2 separate regions of the Homo sapiens genome follow, and region 2 is linked to region 1. The links come from fine-mapping of genetic effects on gene expression. Tissue or cell type: skeletal muscle. Region 1 holds a variant in brackets; the other region holds the start of a gene. All regions are shown on one strand. Distances are from middle to middle.

Region 1 (5,819 bases):
CAGACACTTGAATGTATAGGATCACCCAAAACAGAGAATTCTGAAGTCTTACGCCAGGGGTTGTTGAAAGGGAAATTCTCTTTTATAGGATTTTTTTCTTTATTCTCGTTTGAAGCAGTGTCTTTGTCTTCCAATGCCCGAGCAAGCATGTAGCTAACTTTTCTTTGATGAGCCAAAGCTTCTTCTTTATCATTAAGCTGCATGCACAGAAATTAAACATGTACAAGTTAGTCAATAAATCACAGAATATATTCAGAGAAAGGAGTATTGTACTATTTTATCAAGTTATTCAACCCTAATATTCATACTGATCTGTCCATCAGTATGAATAAATTAGGTATCACCTGATCCCCAAACATTATACTACATGTTATTCATGAATCTTTTTTTTTTTTTTTTTGAGACGGAGTCTGGCTCTGTCACCCAGGCTGGAGTGCAGTGGCACTATCTCCACTCACTGCAAGCTCTGCCTCCCAGGTTCACACTATTCTCCTGCCTCAGCCTCCCAAGTAGCTGGGACCACAGGTGCCCGCCACCACACCCAGCTAATTTTTTGCATTTTTTAGTAGAGACGGGGTTTCACTGTGTTTGCCAGGATGGTCTGAATCTCCTGACCTTGTGATCAGCCCACCTTGGCCTCCCAAAGTGCTGGGATTACAGGCGTGAGCCACCGTGCCCGGCCAATTCTTTTTTTTTTTAAGACAGGGTCTGGCTCTGTTGCCCAGGCTGGAATGCAGTGATGCCATCTTGGCTCACTGCAGCCTCTGCCTCCCAGGCTCAAGTGATTCTTGGGCCTCACCCTCCCGAGTAGAGTAGCTGGGACTATAGGCGTGCACCACCACACCTTGCTAATTTTTGTAGGCTGGTCTCGAACTCCTGGCCTCAAGTGATCCACTCGCCTCGGCCTCCCAAAGTGCTGGAATTACAGATGTGTGCCACCATGCCAGGCTGACAATTTTTTTTTTTTTTTGAGACAGAGTCTCGCTCTGTCACCCAGGTTGGAGTGCAGTTGCATGATCTTGGCTCACTGCAAGCTCCGCTCTCCTGGGTTCACACCATTCTCCTGTCTCAGCCTCCCATGTAGCTAGGGACTACAGGTGCCAGCCACCACACCTGGCTAATTTTTTGTATTTTTAGTAGAGACAGTTTCACCGTGTTAGTCAGGATGGTCTCGATCTCCTGACCTCATGATCCACCCGCCTCGGCTTCCCAAAGTGCTGGGATTACAGGCATGAGCCACTGTGCCCAGCCCCGACGATTATTTTTTAAAAATAATTTTTTAAAAAAAAAAACAGAAGACAGCATTGAAAATTTTGCAAGTCATCTGGAAATGAAGGGAAAATATAGATCTATATGAAGTGTGTATATATAGGTATATAATATCAACATATAAAAAATATATCAACGTGCATATTTATAAAATAATGTTGAAGTTATTTGTATATAAAATTGCTTTCATATATTTGTATGCAAATATATAACAGTCTAGAGATAAGTATGTTCATATAACCTGAGTCTCAGTGTCTTAGTTTAGTCATTCCATGTGGAATGTGGGTAGCAGGACTGTAAAGGATATAATGTGTGAGGAAATGCCTTGAACACTTTAAAAATGCCTCAATAAACAGGCAGACTTGTCACAAACTGTATATATATAAATGTAGATGGCAAAGCTGGCTGGAGTTAACTACAGGAGCCCCCTGTTTTCCAAGATGGAGCCTTTAAACCTGCACAGAAAGAATATGAATGACGAGAAAAGATGAGCTGAGGGAGATAAAGATCATGAAGGTAGAGTCTGGTACTCCAACTGGGAAAAGGACATAGAAGGCAAGTGCAAGTCTAGAGAGATAAAGAGTTGAATTAACAGGAAGCAAATAGATTAGCTTAACCTAGGGGTGTCCAATCTTTTGGCTTCCCTGGGCCACACTGGAAGAAGAAGAATTGTCTTGGGCCACACATAAAATACACTAACACTGGCTGGGCATGGTGGGTCACGCCTGTAATCCCAGCACTTTGGGATGCCGAGGTGGGCAGATCACTTGAGGTCAGGAGTTTGAGACCAGCCTGGCCAACATGGTGAAATCCTGTCTCTACTAAAAACGCACACACAAAATTAGCCAGGCGTGGTGGTGGGCGCCTGCAGTCCCAGCTACTCTAGAGGCTGAGGCAGGAGAATTGCTTGAACCCGGGAGGTGGAGGTTGCAGTGAGCCGAGATCGCGCCGCTGCACTCCAGCCTGGGTGACAGAGACTCTGTCTCAAAAACCAAACAAACAAAAAAACCAAAAAACAAACAAAACAAAAAAATACACTAACACTAATGATAGCTGATGAACTAAAAAAATATATATATATATCAAAAAGATCTCATAATGTTTTAAGAAAGTTTACGAATTTGTGTTGGGCCACATTCAAAGCTGTTCTGGGCTGCATGCTCCCCACGGACCGTGGGTTGGACAAGCTTGGCTTAACCATAACCTGCAAAAAAAAGCAAAGACACTAACCAAATCTATGAGCATCTTAAGGACCTCTTGAGGACTGTCCTGGTCTTCCATCCTCTTAGAACTGTTTTCTGAAGGGAGCATACCCAACAGTCTCTGCCCGAAGGTCTTCTTACTCCTTGGTGATGGAAATCCTAAAATTGAACATGAGAATCCAGCTGAGACATTAAAATATCCTCACTGATATACTTCCAGCAAAAGAGGTAACTTGATCTCTAGGACAAGTGAGTCCAGGAGCACACAGTGGAATGTAGTGAGCAGAGCACAGCCTTCAGAGCCAGGAGCAATGCAGGTGAGAGGCAGCAAGAGTGCCGCCCTGCCATGCGGCACAGCCACCCCTCTGTGCCAGCTGACACACAGGCCACACAAGAACACAGTCCATGTCACTGGATCATCACAGTCTTCAAGAGCAGCCAGAAATGCAGATCTGTCATGACATCTTCCAATTCTAAATGTCAGCCACTAGTCTTATTGTTTGACTACACTAAGCCAACCTAACAAAACATGTCTGCAGGCCACAGGGGGCCTCTGAGCCATGCAAACTCTGCTTCCGAACAGCAAAGACCTGGACTTGAATCCTCATTCAGCC[A/G]CTTACTAACTGTATGACCTCGGGTGACTTTTCTCAGCTTGATTTCCTCATCTCTAAAATGAGAATAGCATTACCTTCTTCTCAGGGAACTGTGCCATTAAATAATAAATCACACGGGCTGGAGAAGGGGAAGTGAGGAGTTACTGTTTCATGGGACAGGGTCTCTGTAAAGAAAGATGAAAATGTTCTGGAGCTGGATGGTGATGAAGGTTACATTACAATGTGAATATACTTAATACCACTTAAAAACAGTTCAAATGGTAAACTATATATATATATATATATATATATATATATATATATATATATATAATTTTTTTTTTTTTTTAGATGGAGTCTTGTTCTGTCACCCAGGCTGGAGTGCAGTGGCGCAATCTCGGCTCACTGCAAGCTCCGCCTCCCGGGTTCGCGCCATTCTCCTGCCTCAGCCTCCCGAGTAGCTGGGACTACAGGCGCCCGCCACCACGTCCGGCTAATTTTTTTGTATTTTTAGTAGAGATGGGGTTTCACTGTGTTAGCCAGGATGGTCTCGATCTCCTGACCTCATGATTCGCCCCCTCTTGGCCTCCCAAAATGCTGGGATTACAGGCGTGAGCCACCGCGCCCGGCCAACTTTAGATATATTTTACCACCATCACGACAACAACAAAAAATACCACAATTGTCAAAGGCCCTGCTCAGGTATTAGCATAATATTTAATATTTCACGTGCTGACATCATTGATGTCCTTCTTCATCCATTGAAGGAAAGTAATTTGCAGAAGTTATAAAATCTCAGATTGTACAAGGAAAATTTCAAGAATGTTTTTGGAATATTCTCCAAAAGTGGTTTAGTGGGAAACTGAGAGCAGATGAGGGGAGATCCCCTTCCCACCAATCCTGACAGACCACAGTGACGAGGGCGGCCCTGACCCCTTCCACGAGGAGCTGTGGCAAACAGAAGTCAGAGAAACTGACACTTTGATGAGTAGATGAATCTGTGTCCCTATTTTCAGTCTAAAAAAAGAAATAGCTTGGTGTGATGGCTCAAGCTGGTAGTCTGGAGGATTGCTTAAGCCCAGGAGTTTAAGATAAAAAAAAAAAAAAAAAAACCCAAAAGCAAAAATACAAAGAAAGAAAGAAGTATGCCTATAAACTACTTCCGGAAACTTGTCTAAACTGCCATATCAAAAAGAAAGTTGATATTAAGTGTTACTAAACATAAAATAATCTGTATCACCCTGTACCTCTTAAGATTACTGAAATATACTAATAAAATGAATTAAAGTCTTGTCACTGAGAAACTGAGAAAGAACTACTCAAACTTGTATAGATTTATAAAAGCTGTGCGAGATTAATCAATTTTTTTTTTTTTTTTTGAGATGGAGTCTCGCTTTTGTCGCCCAGGCTGGAGTGCAACAGCGCAATCTTGGCTCACCACAACCTCTGCCTCCCGGGTTCAAACATTTCTCCTGCCTCAGCCTCCCGAGTAGCTGGGATTACAGGCTTGTGCCACCACACCCAGCCAATTTTGTATTTTTAGTAGAGACAGGGTTTCTCCATGTTGGTCAGGCTGGTCTCAAATTCCCGACCTCAAGTGATCCACCCACCTCAGCCTCCCAAAGTCCTGAGATTACAGGCGTGCCACTGCACCCGGCCATCAGTTTTTGGTGGTTTTTTTTTTTTGAGACAGGGTCTTGCTCCATCACCCAGGCTGGACTGCAGTGGTGGGATCATGACTCACTGCAGCCTCAGCCTCCCAGGCTCAAGCGATCCTCCCACTTCAGCCTCCCTAGTAGCTGAGACCACAGGTATCTACCACCACACTTGGCTATTTTTTTTTTTTTAATAGAGACAGGGTCTCCCTATGTTGCCCAGCCTGGTCTCAAACTCCTGAGCTCAAGCAATCCTCCTGCCTCAGCCTCCCAAAGCGCTGGGATTACAGGCATGAGCCACTGTGCCCTGCCTATATCAATTATTTAAAATTCTGCCTTCAGTCTCTCTCAGTGCCTTACTGGAACTCAGAGATTGGGAGCTATACCCCTCTGAATTGCATTTTTTGTGGGAATCTTCCTTAGATTTGTCAATAGCTGAATGTGATATTGTAATATAAGAAATATATATTTGGTCTTTGCCCTCAGTTCCTGACATAGAGCTCCTAAAATCCTAGTAGATAGGGGTGTTAGGTGAATCTTTTCTCATAGTTGGTCTTTGACCCCAGTTCCTAACACACAATTCTTAAGACTGTAATTTCCTCAGTGCTAGGAGCATCTGACACAGAGCCCCTAAATCCCTTGGAATTTCCTGGGTAATAGAAGCATCTTTTGTTCTAATGAGGCTCTTGATGGGCTCCTGGATAGCCTCAGGATGGGGGCTGGTTGCCAGGGGAACCAATCTTGTGATTAGAAAGCTGGAACTTTCAGCCCTAGCCCCCAAACTCCAGGGAAGCGAGAGGGGCTGAAGGTTGAGTTGATTACCAATGGCCAATGATGTAATCACCAATGGCCAGTGATGTACCGTGTCCATGTAATGAAGCCTCCATAAAAACCCAAAAGGGTCTGGGGAGCTTCCAGATAGCTGAGCATGTGAGGTTCCTGAGGGGTGGTACGCCAAAGAGAGCATCCCTTCCCACGTGCCTTGCCCTGTCCATCTCTTTATCTGGCTGTTCATCTGCATCCTTTGTAAGATCCTTTATAATAAACTGGTAAACGGAAGTGTTTCCCGGAGTTCTGTGAGGCATCCTAGCAAATCAATG
Region 2 (5,000 bases), 48 kb after region 1:
CCAAACTATGTCATTCTTTGCACATTAATTTCACTGCCCTGGTGGAACGTCTCTTTAATTCCCCAAGGCTAGCCTGATAATTTCCTAATTGGTCTACTTCAAGCCAACCTACATACTGCTGCCAAGTCAATAATATCCAAGTGCAAACCGAATGATGTCTCTCTCTTGCTGTAAAACATTCCATGGCTCCCATGGCATGTATAATTGTAGTCAATGTCACCCTGTTTTCCTTTTTAAAAAAAATGTAGGCTGGGCACAGTGGCTCACACATGTAATCCGAGCACTTTGGGAGGCTGAGGCGGGCAGATCACCTGAGGTCAGGAGTTTGTGACCAGCCTGGCCAACATGGTGAAACCCCGTCTCTACTAAAAATACAAAAATTAGCCAGGTATGGTGGCGGGCGCCTTTAATCCCAACTACTTGGGAGGCTAAGCAGGAGAATCGCTTGAACTTGGGAGGTGGAGGTTCCAGTGAGCTGAGACAGCACTATTGTCTGTCACCCACGCTGGAGTGCAATGGTGCGATCTCGGCTCACTGCAACCTAGACCTCCTGGGTTCAAGCGATTCTCCTGCCTCAGCCTCCCCAGTAGCGGAGATTACAGGCGCCCACCACCATGCCCGGCTAATATTTGTATTTTTGTAGAGACGGGGTTTCACCATGTTGGCCAGGCTGGTCTAGACCTCCAGACCTCAGGAGATCTGCTCACCGGTCTCCCAAAGTGCTGGAATTACAGGCGTGAGCCACTGCGCCCAGCCGAAACTCCGTTTCAAAAAAATAAAAATAAAAATAATGTATCCAACTGAAGTGTCACCCTGTTTTCTACAACAAAGCTACAGTTTTCACCTCCAGTTTCATCTGGCAGTACTCCCTGGATGTACTCTGCGCTTCCACGTAAGAGGAACTGCACTTGCTCCCAGGGCTCCTCCCTCAGCTCAGCTTGGTCACCTGCAAGCCTCTATTGGTGCCATTCTTCACCCCAGGAATGCTGTTTCTTCTCAGAGCCCCCTCAGTTCAGGACAGCACTCCCTCCAGTAGCCTTCCTGACTCCCTTGGACCAGATGTGATTTCTTCCACATCTGAGTCTTCCCAGTTCTGGGAGGTTTTACTGAATCTTTTTAATAGTGCTTACTTCCTACCTGACCTAGACTGACTGTATATTCCCTTATGCAGAGACTTTGTGTGTCTCGTTTGCTTATGCACAACATGTGTTCCAAAGATATTTGACAGAATCGAAAGAGAAAACCGATTCCTGCCCGGAAACCTTTGGACAGAAGAATCTACATTCAGTAGCCTGACAACTCTGCCTTAGCAAACAAGTTGGTCAAACATGCCTAACTCCATGACAAAGAGGAACTAACTTGAGCCCTCCCTGGTGAACAATGGCCTGCTGCACTTTGCTTTAGGATTTTGTTTCTTAACTTTTCATTTTAGAATAATTTTAGATGTACAGTAAATTGCAAAGATAGTACTAAGAATTCCTGTGTACCTTTTACCCAAATTCCTCTAATGTCAACATTTGTGTACAATTTGTCGAAATTAAGAAATTAACATGGGTACGTGCTATTAACTAAACCACAGCCTTTATTATTTTTTCCACTAATGTCTTTTTCTGTTTCAGGATCCAAACCAGGATACTGGCGCTATAGTTTTATAAGGCTCAAAATTAACAGAAGAGAAAAAAAGTAAAGCAGGTGGAGAGGCAGAGAGAGAAATAGGGTCTCTGAAATCTATTTCTTATTTTTTTCTTATCAGACGAGGCCATTAAACTGGCATTCAGGGAAAAGGATTTGGGCAGTTTGTCCACAACCTGCAGAGTTTCCACGAATCTGCGCATCCCGCCCCTGCCCTGGGTCCTCCCCACTCCCGGTTCCCACCTGCCAGGTCTGACCCCGGGTACCCTCTCAAGGTCCGTGGCGGGGACCGGAGCCCGGACTCCAGCTCAGCGAACAGCACCCTCCTACCGCCCCGGCGCCCCACTCAGCTCGCTCACCTGGCAAGTAGCCTCCTCTCCGTGCGCGTGCGCCGCTGCCGCCGCGCGTCCTCCGGGCCACCACGTGACCGCGTGGGCGCAGTCCCAGACAGGAAACGCCGGTGAGGTCGCCCTGGGCCATGGAGGCAGCTCGCGCTACTTTTTCGCGACCTCACTGTGTTCCTGTGTGCAACCTGATGTTAGCTCTGTCCACCTTCAGCTCCAAAGCCAACCACGGGTAACCAATATGCAAACAATGACATGAGATTTAGAAAAACAACAAGACGGGGCCTGTGTCAATACAGGTAAAATTTGGTGGTTCAAACATTGAGGTTCAGACCGGCGCGGGGTTTCACACCTGTAATCCCAGCTTTTGGGAGGCCAAGGCGGGAGGATCGCTTGAGGCCAGGAATTCGAGACCAGCATGGCCAACATAGTGAGACCCCGCTCTACAAAAAATTTAAAAAGTAGGGCTGGGCGCGGTGGCTCACGCCTGTAATCCCAGCACTTTAGGTGGCCGAGGCGGGTGGATCACGAGGTCAGGAGATTGAGACCATCCTGGCTAACACAGTGAAAACCCTTCTCTACTAAAAATACAAGAAATTAGCCGGGCGTGGTGGCGGGTGCCTGTAGTCCCAGCTGCGCAGGAGGCTGAGGCAGAATGGCGTGAACCCGGGAGGCGGAGCTTGCAGTGAGCCAAGATCGTGCCACTGCACTCCAGCCTGGGCAACAGAACGAGTCTCCGTCTCAAAAAAAAAAAATAATTAAAAAGTAGCGGGTGTGGTGGTGCGTACCTGTAGTCCCAGCTACTCAGGAGGCCGGGAGGCCGTCAGGTGGGAGGATCCCGTGAGCCTGGGAGATCCAGGCTACAGTGACCACTGCACTCCAGCCTGGGCGACGGAGTGGAGACCCTGTCTCAAAAAAGAAACAAACCAAAACCAAAATATTAAGTCTCTAGGAATCCTGTAAGAGAAGGGTAGATCGGGCCAGGTGCGGTGGCTCACGCCTGTTAACCCAGCACTTTGGGAGGCCAAGGTGGGTGGATCACCTGAGGTCAGAAGTTTGAGACCAGCCTGGCCAACATGGTGAAACCCCATCTCCACTAAAATACAAAATTTAGCCGGTCGTCACACGTCCGGAGGCCGAGCCGTCGCGTACCTAGGATGCCGCGTGGAAGCCGAAGCCGCACCTCCCGCATGGCCCCTCCGGCCAGCCAGGCCCCCTCAGATGAGAGCTGCACCCAGGCCAGTACCAGTCGTTCAGCCACCAGCAGCGGCACCCCCATCTGTAGTTGGCTCTTCTGCTGCTGCGCCCCGGCAGCCAGGTCTGATGGCCCAGATGGCAACCACTGCAGCTGGCGTGGCTGTGGGCTCTGCTGTGGGTCACGCCATTACTGGGGCTTTCAGGGGAGGAAGTAATGCTGAGCCTGCGAGGCCTGACATCACTTACCAGGAGCCTCAGGGAACCCAGCCGGCACAGCAGCAGCAGCCTTGCTTCTATGAGATCAGTTTCTGGAGTGTGCCCAGAACCAGGGTGACATCAAGCTCTGTGAGGGTTTCAATGAGGTGCTGAAACAGTGCCGACTTGCAAACGGATTGGCCTAATCAAGAAGTTCAACCTGGAGAGATGGAAAATCAGCTCTCATAACTAAGTTAATTTAGTATAAAAATAGAATTGATAGTGAGGGTATAAAGTGTAACCATGAGTTAAACCTCTCCTGTCATTCCTAGCTTCCTTGCTTCAGAATTGAAATGGAAGGGGGGTGTTCCTACTCTGTAGAATCTGTGACAGGGCAAATGTTTGTGTGGCCTCCTTAAACTAGCTGTTATGATTTTATTCTTTGTGAGTTAATTAGAATAAAGTCATTTTCTTCCAAAAAAAAAATTAGCCGGTCGTGGTGGCAGGTGCCTGTATTCCCAGCTGCTTGGCTGAGGCAGGAGAATCTCTTGAACCCGGCAAGCGGAGTTTGCCGTGAGCCGAGATCGCGCCACTGCACTCCAGCCTGGGTGACAGAGCAAGACTTTGTCTTAAAAAGAGGAGGTGGGGGTGGGAGAGAGAGAGAGAGAGAGAGAGAGAGGGAGAGGGAGGGAGAGAGAGAGAGAGAGAAATCTAAGCTGAGGTTCAGAGGTAGAGGCAGTCATTGAAAAACAGGCTTTTGCGGGCGGGCGGCGTCCACTGCAAGGATGCACTGTCTGGCTCCCTCTGGAGGCGGGAGCACGAAGGAGCGACCACGGAGCCCTTGAGCCTGTGGATGGTGGCCTCGGCGGCCGGCAGGCCATGCTGGAGTATCTGCCAACCTGATGAAGACGAGGACGTCCCACAAGTTCCGGACAGACGTGGCCGCCAAATTAATGAGGAAAGAAAAGGAGTCTTTTTTTTTTTTTTTAAAGACAGAGTTTTTCTCTTGTTGCCAGGCTGCAGTGCAGTGGCGAGATCTCAGCTCACTGCAACCTCTGCCTCCCGGGTTCAAGTGATTCTCCTGCCTTAGCCTCTGGAGTAGCTGAGATTACAGGTCTGCACCACCACGCTCAGCTAATTTTGTATTTTTAGTAGACAGGGGGTTTCTCCATGTTGGTCAGGCTGGTCTCGAACTCCTGACCTCAGGTGATTCGCCCGCCTTGGCCTCCCAAAGTGCCGGGATTACAGGCGTGAGCCACCGTGGCTGACCAAAGGTGTCTTAAGCTTAGAAAAATGATAAAAGATATAAAAGCTGCCTAGGAATGAAACTACTGGGTCATATGAGGCTCCTTCAGGGTGCGCAAAGTCCTGGAAACCAGCATGCAGATAAGGAAAGAAAGAGACCATCAGTCCATGCAGTTGTCAGCTGGCTGGGAGCTGAGGAGAGTCACTTGTGGAGGCACCTGATCTTTGTCCCCCACGTCCCAGACAAGCCCATATCTCACTTTCAGAACTAAGATGCTTGGGAAACCAAGACAAGGAACTGTGTATTGCAAACAGCATTACCCTAGAGAAGAAGTGGCAGGAGATGACCTACAAAAAAATGGAGCAATAGCCTAGAGCAAGAAACAG

Which allele goes with the higher level. Positions count from the first base shown, and alleles are read on the strand shown. Sizes are in standard deviations (SD) of each study's normalised expression.
For the expression in skeletal muscle of the gene that starts at base 2,028 in region 2, G is the high allele of the variant in region 1 and A is the other (moderate effect, 0.68 SD a copy in GTEx).

The links. PIP is the estimated chance that this variant, and not a neighbour inherited with it, causes the effect.
Region 2: it holds the start of CCDC125, and the variant in region 1 is fine-mapped to the expression of CCDC125 in skeletal muscle (GTEx, PIP above 0.99).

What each region holds. Positions count from the first base shown.
Region 1 is chr5:69,282,838-69,288,656 of GRCh38, forward strand. It overlaps CCDC125 (coiled-coil domain containing 125), which reads right to left. Exons shown (of 12, transcript NM_176816.5): 11 at 2,500-2,630; 12 at 1-197. Among named protein-coding and RNA genes, the nearest start is that of CCDC125, 47 kb to the right of the region's middle. The variant A/G (reference allele first, on the strand shown) is at 3,086.
Region 2 is chr5:69,330,774-69,335,773 of GRCh38, forward strand. It overlaps CCDC125 (coiled-coil domain containing 125), which reads right to left and starts at 2,028. Exons shown (of 12, transcript NM_176816.5): 1 at 1,876-2,028. It also overlaps the pseudogene CHCHD2P2.